2 linked regions of the Homo sapiens genome follow. The protein of the gene in region 2 purifies or fractionates together with the protein of the main gene of each other region. This does not show direct contact. Each region holds a gene or a part of one and is shown on either strand. Other genes may lie near its edges. The genes, in order: DDI2 and ZNF419.

Evidence for each region.
Region 1: the proteins of ZNF419 (region 2) and DDI2 purify together in Homo sapiens (co-immunoprecipitation; one large-scale study listed by IntAct). This does not show direct contact.

The regions. Positions count from the first base shown.
Region 1 is NC_000001.11:15,648,367-15,652,180, reverse strand, and holds part of DDI2 (protein DDI1 homolog 2), read right to left. Parts: intron 2,462-3,814; coding exon 2,358-2,461; intron 476-2,357; coding exon 286-475; intron 1-285. UniProt on the Homo sapiens protein: Aspartic protease that mediates the cleavage of NFE2L1/NRF1 at 'Leu-104', thereby promoting release of NFE2L1/NRF1 from the endoplasmic reticulum membrane.
Region 2 is NC_000019.10:57,486,215-57,490,590, reverse strand, and holds the start of ZNF419 (zinc finger protein 419), read right to left. Parts: upstream 2,842-4,376; 5' UTR 2,641-2,841; coding exon 2,608-2,640; intron 461-2,607; exon of another isoform or gene 445-460; coding exon 406-444; intron 1-405. UniProt on the Homo sapiens protein: May be involved in transcriptional regulation.

The sequences.
Region 1 (3,814 bases), on a different chromosome or scaffold from region 2:
ACTGCTTGAGCCCAGGAAGTCAAGGGTGCAGTGAACTACAATCATGTCACACTGCACACTGCACTCCAACCTGGGTGACAGAGTGAGACAATGTCTCCAAAAAAAAAAAAAAAAAAAAAAAAGGAAGATCAAAGAAGGAGGTTAAGAAGACAAATAATGAACACATCTACTACTGGACCATGAGACTAATTAAAAACTGGAAAGGTTCCTACCCCTTCTGAAGCCCACACTTCCCGGGCTTACCCATCAATAACAAGTATTGAAGAGTTTGGCCATCCCAAATACCTGCATCCTCTGCTGATTTTTGAAGGGCTTCTGCTAATTCTTGGTCTGCAATCTCCTCTGGCCGTACATCCTCTCTTCCAGCCCCATATGCCAACCGGGCACACTCTGGTAGCTCTCCCTCAGGAAGAAAGGTGGTCTGGGAGCCTGTGGTGCCGATCACGAGTACATTTTTCTTCAGGTCGATGGAACACTTGGAAGAAAGAAACCAAAGAATAATAGCAGATAAAACACCATGCAGAAAAATTATGCTCCTTAATTTAAAACTCCAATCACAAATGGCCAGGCACGGTGACTCATGCCTGTAATCCCAGCACTTTGGGAGGCTGAGGAGGGCAGATCACCTGAGGTCAGGAGTTCCAGACCAGCCTGGCCAACACGGTGAAACCCCACCTCTACTAAAAATACAAAAATTAACCAGGCGTGGTGGCACATGCCCATAATCGCAGCTACTTGGGAGGCTGAGGCAGGAGAATCACTTGAACCTGCGAGGCAGAGGTTGCAGTGAGCCAAGATTGTGCCACGCAAGGCAATCTCCACAGTATTCTTTACTCCATGCTAATGCTAACTTCCTTTTTTGTGTATTTTATAACTACTTAATAGACAGTTGTGCACATATATGATTTACATCTATAAAGTTGGAGACTGCTGGTCTATACCATGACTAAAAAAATAAGGAAAGGCAGTGACAAGGTTTTATTGATACATACACTCATTCATTCATTCGTTCTATTTAGAATGCTGTGAGCCGGGCGTGGTGGCTCACGCCTGTAATCCCGGCACTTTGGGAGGCTGAGGCGGGCGGATCACGAGGTCAGGAGATCGAGACCATCCTGGCTAACAAGGTGAAACCCCGTCTCTACTACAAATACAAAAATTAGCCGGGCGTGGTGATGGGTGCCTGTAGTCCCAGCTACTCGGGAGGCTGAGGCAGGAGAATGGCGTGAACCCAGGAGGCGAAGCTTGCAGTTAGCCAAGATTGCACCACTGCACTCCAGCCTGGGCAACTGAGCGAGACGCTATCTCAAAATAAATAAATAAATAAATAAATAGAATGCTGTGTCTTATTATCAATATGATGCATCTACTTTTACAGAAATATTTTAAAATAGTGACATAAAAATATTGATTAGCTATATTTTCAATTGTTTTTAACTCAATTTTGTTTTTTGAGATGTGGTTTTGCTCTGTTACCCAGGCTGAAGTGTAGTGGCACAATCTTGACTCACTGCAGCCTGGTCTCAAGGGATCCTCTTGCCTCAGCCTCACGAGTAGCTAATGTACCACCACGCCTAGCTAATTTTTGTACTTTTTGTAGAGACAGGGTCTCACTAAGTTACCCAGACTGGTTTCAAACTCATTCTGGCCTCAAGCAATCCTCCCTCCTTGGCCTCCCAAAATGCTGGAATTACAGGCATGTACCACTGTACCTGGCAGGTTGACTGGATATAAAACCCTACTGTGAAAAATGTGAAGTACCCAGTGAGGTCTACAGCCATACCACCCTGAGCATGCCTAATCTCATCTAAATACCCAGTGGACTAACTGCTTCTTCAACGACGGCAGTATATCTCAAATTATTGTGCTTTAGAGTAGAAAGATAAATATCAACACAAATTAATATATTAATTATGCACCCTGTACTAAATAAACACTTTCACTCCCAACATATACCTTCCTTAACCTTGAAGGTCTTCTTCCCAAGTACTGTTTGATCAGCATCAGAGAATGCTAAAGACTTACTTGACTCACACTTTTTAGTCAGGTCATCAAAAAACTACTAATCAGGATCTAACCAGAATCTGAAAATTATACAAGGGAACCAAACTGTCCTTTACAATCTCAAAACATTTGGCAAGATTTAACAGATTCACAGAGAGATTTCACAAAAACAGATTCTATCTATATCGACACATCATTTCAACCTCTGTATAGCAACATAATTTAAGGACATTTCCAGGTTTGAAAAGTCGTTATTTCTTAGTTTTCCAGTATATGTAACCAATAAAAATAATGTGATAATGACCATATTACAAAAAGCAGATGCAAAAAAAATAAGTGAAGCTCTTAATTACCTGGTGCCGTTTAAGCATGTCCAGTCCCAGAAGCATGTCCATGGGCTGTTCCTCAAGTATAGAGAAGGAACATGGCAAAAAATCTCCTTCAATCTGAACCTGAGCTAAAAAGCACATGAAGAGAAAAGGTTATTGTTACGTACTTCAAAACAGAGACGGAGTTTCGCTCTTGTTGCCCAGGCTGGAGTGCAATGGCATAATCCTGGCTGATGGCAACCTCTGCCTCCCGGGTTTAAGTGATTCTCTTGCCTCAGCCTCCCAAGTAGCTGGGATTACAGGCATGTGCCACCACGCCTGGCTAATTTTGGTATTTTTAGTAGAGACGGGGTTTTGCCATGTCGGTCAGGCTGGTCTCAAACTCTTGGCCTCAGGTTATCTGCCCACCTTGGCCTCCCAAAGTGCTGGGATTACAGGTATGAGCCACCGTGTCCAGCTGAAAAGTTCTTTTCATTATTATTTTTTGAGACAGAGTCTTGCTCTGTTGCCCAGGCTGGAGTGCAGTGGCGTGATCTCGGCTCACTGCAACCTCTGCCTCCTGTGTTCTCTGATTCTCTGCCTAAACCTTCCAAGTAGATGGGATTACAAACACGCACCACCACGCCCAGCTAATTTTTACATTTTTAGTAGAGACAGGGTTTCACCATGTTAGCCAGGCTGGTCTTGAACTCCTGACCTCACGTGATCCACCCACCTTGGCCTCCCAACGTGCTGGGATTACAGGCGTGAGCCACTGCACCCAGCCAAAAACTTTTTGTAGAGATTGAGTCTCGCTATATTGACCAGGCTGGTCTTGAACTTCTGGCCTCAGGCAGTCATCCCTGCCTTGGCGTCCCAAAGTGCTGGGATTACAAGAGTGAGCCACCACACCCAGCAGATGACCTATTTTTAAAGAACTCCTTCCTTACACAAGATATTGTGTATTTTCTGCTAAAATCTTTAATTTTCCTTTCCACATCTAGGTTTTAGGGTTGTTTTTTTTTTTTTTTTTTGAGACAGGGTCTGCTACGTTGCCCAGGCTGGTCTCAAACTCCTAGGCTCAAGCAATCCTCCCTCCCCTGCATCTAGGTGTTTACTCTGAATTTGCTTTTGTGTGGTGTGGGTAGGGTCCGATTTCTAATTCATTTCTCCCCATGGATACCTCTTGTCCCAGCAACATTTCCTAACATTTCCCCATTGCTCTGTAAGACTTCCTCTCATTGATCAATGTTCATAGAATCATGGGTTTGTTTCTACTCATATCTTCTAGATAGTCCTTTGATATCTAGAAGGCAATGTTTTTCTAGAGTATTTTGCCCATTCTCACAATATAGGGCCCACGCCAAATTTAAAATGAGCACATCCAGTCTCACAAAAAATCTACCAGGATTTTGATGGCATCTCAATGGTTCTGTGGATTAATGTGGGAGAACTGCCACCCCCAACATACTGAATCTCTAATCCATGGTAAAGCTTTCCTT
Region 2 (4,376 bases):
ATCATCTGAGGTCAGGAGTTTGAGACCAACCTAACCAACGTGGAGAAACCTCTCTACCAAAAATCCAAAATTAGCTGGTGTGGTGGCGCATGCCTGTAATCCCAGCTACTCGGGAGGCTCAGACAGGAGAATTGCTTGAACCCAGGAGCCAGAAGTTGCAGTGAGCCGAGATCGCGCCTTTGCACTCCAGCCTGGGCAACAAGAGCAAAACTCTGTCTTAAAAGAAAATAATAAAAATAATATATAGTCTGGACTCAGGGCCCTGACTGTGTGTGACCATCTTCCAGGGAACTCAAATGGAAGGGTAGGGAGAATAGCCAGCAAGGAGCCTCAAGACACCATAATTCTGAAGACCATGTAGGTAGGAGTGCAGGAGTGTGAGGACCTGAGACATCCTCCACTTACCTCCTCATGGTCTGTAAGCAAGTCTGCAGCCACAGGAACCTATGGAAAATCAAGACTATGAGAACCAGACAGTGATGTTGCCAAAGGATCATCCAAGCCCACTCGTCTAGCCTGGAGTCAGGTGTGCCTGACTATCTACAATCTGGGCTTTGGTTCTTAGTGATGCCTCTTACCTGTTGTGTGCCCTTGGAAAAGTGCTCAACTTCCCTGTGCCTTGGTGTTGCCATCTGCAACATGGCAATAATAATGGTATTTACTCAATAGGACGATTGTTTGTATCAAACTCATTCTTATGTGTCTAGGACTAAGTATCAACTCTTACTGTACACATAATTAATGCTTCTGTCAACATTTTCAGCGCAAATAAACTGGTAGGTTTTCAAAATGTGGGTTTCTGGCTAGGCGCAGTGGCTCACACCTGTAATCCCAATGCTTTGGGAGGCCGAGGTGGGCAGATCGTCTAAGGTCAGGAGTTTGAGACCAGCCTGGCTAACATGGTGAAACCTCGTCTCTACTAAAAATATAAAAATTAGCTGAGCGTGGTGGTGCATGCCTGTAATCCCAGCTACTCAGGAGGCTGAGGCAGGGGAATCGCTTGAACCAGGGAGGCAGAGGTTGCAGTGAGCAGAGATTGCACCATTGCAGTTTAGCCTGGGCAACAAAAGCGAAACTCTGTCTCAAAAAAAAAAAAAAAAAAAAAAGAAAGAAAGAAAGAAAAAGAAAATATGGGTTTCTTAAACTTACTTTTAAATTAAGAATGTGATACTTAAGGTGCTTTATTTTAATCAAATACTTTCCAGTATACTAACTTTACAACCAATTATGAAGTGCTTACATCAGTTTAACTTAATAAATCCGTGTTGTTTTATTTGCCCCTGTGTGTATATGAACTATGATCAATTAGTGCTTAAATACTTACCTCATAAATTCACAAGTTAATAAACTGGGACCTGGGTCTGAGAAACCTGAGCACATACCATTCCTTTTGGCAACCTGGCTGCCTGCTATATACTCCCCTGAAGACCATCCTGCTGAGAGCCCTTCTACTGGAGCAGTTGATCATCCCTCCTGTGCTGACGGCTAGGGAAACTTAGGCACCAAAGGGGCTGCTCCAGCAGCCTGGCTGACGTTTCCTTTTGTCCATACGGACTGTACATGAGGAACTGCTGAGCCTGGAGTGGCAAACCTATATACTACTCAACACTGCAGTCTCCATGCAGTCCTGGGTCTTCATACTCTATAACCCTCCATTCCGGCAGACACCAGACAGAACCACTTCTGACCACAAAACTCCATGCTATAGAGGCAGCCCCGTCCTACAGGGCCATCTCTCCCTTCTCTCACCTTAGGGCCCATCTGAAAGGGAACCTTAAGATTCTCCCTCCTAAATAGGAGCCCCAGGACTTACCCTAGTCCAGGCCTCTACCCAACCAGCCCATATCTACCATATCTCCAGCCCAGATCCCTCCCCAAACTTCCAGATGTGAGTGGGCAAGCTGCCCATGTGGACACGACACCTCCACTCTGGGTCATCTCAGGATTACCATGTCCAAAACCTACTCCCTGCACAGCCTTACCCATCTCCATCCTTCCTGATATTCAGGAACAAACAAACAAAAATACAAATAAAAATCCAGAATGGCTCTTCATTCCCTTTCTTTCAGTCACATCTGATGCAACAGGAATTCCTGTCTGTTCAGTTTTTGATATCCATCCAAGATCTGATCACTTCCCCTCCTCTGTGGCCCAGTCCCAGTAGACTCTCCACTAGTCTACTGAATTTACCTACTCACAGGTCTGTCTTCACCCGCCTCACCCCCACCCCAGTCTGTTTTGACTTGAAGGGCCTTTGGCAAACTTTGAGAAACAGATCTTGTCACTCTTCTGTCTCCAGCCCTCCGCGGCCACTGTGGCCCCCTCAGGATGAAAGCGCAGCTGCTCGGGCTGTCGCTCGACACGCGCCTCGTCCCTTCCCAAGCTGCCCACTACAGACACCAGGAGGCCTCAGGTTCGGGACTCGCTGAATGCGCCTCACATCTTTGCGAGCCGGGCCCCTTGCCCTCCATTGCCACCCCATCACACTGCGTGTCAGAAACGGGACGCCGCGCACGAACGCCCCACAGTTCTGCACCCGGGGACCTGAGCAGGCGGCCCTCACAGGGCTTTAGGATTCGGGGGAGGCCAGGAGGACGCGGCGCTCACCTGAGCGGGGTCCCTCAGGGCGGCCGCCGCCATCGGAGCCTGTGAGTAGAGCTGGAGGGGAGACAATGACCGAGGAAAGGGCCCGGGCCACCCTGGGCGCCGCCACCGAGCCTCAGACCCGCCTCTGAGCGGCGAGAACAGCGTGAGTCGCCACCGTGCCTTCCGGCGCTGGTCGCCTCAGCGCACAACCAGCTTCTCGCAGGTTAGTTCACCTGAGTCGCGAAAGTGAATACCAAACGAGACGCCGGAAGTCCCGCCCATTGCGTGTCGCACGCTCGGGCAGACCTCTTTTCATTGGTCAGGGATCGCCGCCTCGCGGCGCTGCGCCTTTTGGGCAATGTAGTTCCCGTGCCTCCAAACTTCCAGGAAGTGGGCATAACTTCGGAGATGGAGATTGGAGATGATAGATGATGATGGAGATGGAGACGGAGATGGAGATGATGATGGAGATGGAGATAACGGAATAGGAGATGGAGGAGAAATTAGGGTTGAGAACTTCTCTCGGACTCATCCAGAAACTGCTGTTTTTGGAGATGGGCCTGGATTTCAGTTTCCTGCAGCTGATACCCCAATCTTTCCTTCTTTTGAAGGAATTGAAGAGGATCTTCAGGGCCACAGTAAAGAGGTTTCTCTGGGAAGAGCCACGTATAGATCCCCAAATTTCCTTTGACAAAAGGACACCCAATATTAAAATTAACGGTGGCCAAGCAATGCCTGATGTATGACAATAAGAAAAGGCTCTGAATTCTGGATGTAGGTGATGAGAGAGTATGGGAGCCCAAGGATTTACTTTCCTCCTTTATCCCATGCTCATTTGTGCTCCTTCCTTCCTCAAAGACCCAACATTGGTGTACAGGCACAACAATAGGCGGCAAACCCATGAGGCAACTCCCCCTCCATTTCTCTCCTTCATCCCTTTATGCTCCATGTTCCCACTGCTCTTCCATTTCCAAATATAAAGCCAGTTCCTCACAGGTGGGTAGAATGCTAGACTGTTGTTTACAACACACAACTATTGATAAAAAAAAGATGTCAACCCTTTATTATGTGTAGTCCCACTACATCCATTCCCATTGAATCTAGTCCCCTCGTGTCAATCTAATTTCCCTACTTCTTTTCCTGCCCCTTCCATCTGTTGGCTGAATAATGATCAATTTCAACACAGCATTGGAGTGACTTATGAGGACAAGAGAAAATGAAGCCCTCCCTCCTTCTTGGAGCTTTCTGGAACTGGGTGTTCAGTACTACTTGACTCTGAAAAGGAGGAGGGGAGTCAATATTGGGATTGAGAACATGGTAGAATAGAGAGAGACACAAGCTCTTTACCCCTTCCATGGCAGCTATGGCATTAGTTATTTCAGTTAGACCATTATGTGGCATATGGAAGGGAGGGGAGGAGGAGAGTGAGGAGAGATGAGTCCATGACAGGAGTGGGACAATATGTAAATAATATCCTCCTTCTGAAACCAAGCACAGGAATAAATGTTTCACTTCCTTGAGAACATCTATTAGAAGAGCAGATTCTGGATTAATCATCTAATAGATTATGGAAATTAGCTTACCATCATGACAGGAACCTTTGTGGACAAACCTAAAAAACATATTATAGAATCTAGTCACCCATACAGTGTAAAATGTATAGAAAATTCAGAATCTGGAAATAAGAAACAGTATATCATTTAGGAAAATATATGTATGTAGTAAAACTATAAAGACATTTATAGAATGATTATCAAAATGATTAACAAAAATGTCATGCAAATGTTAGC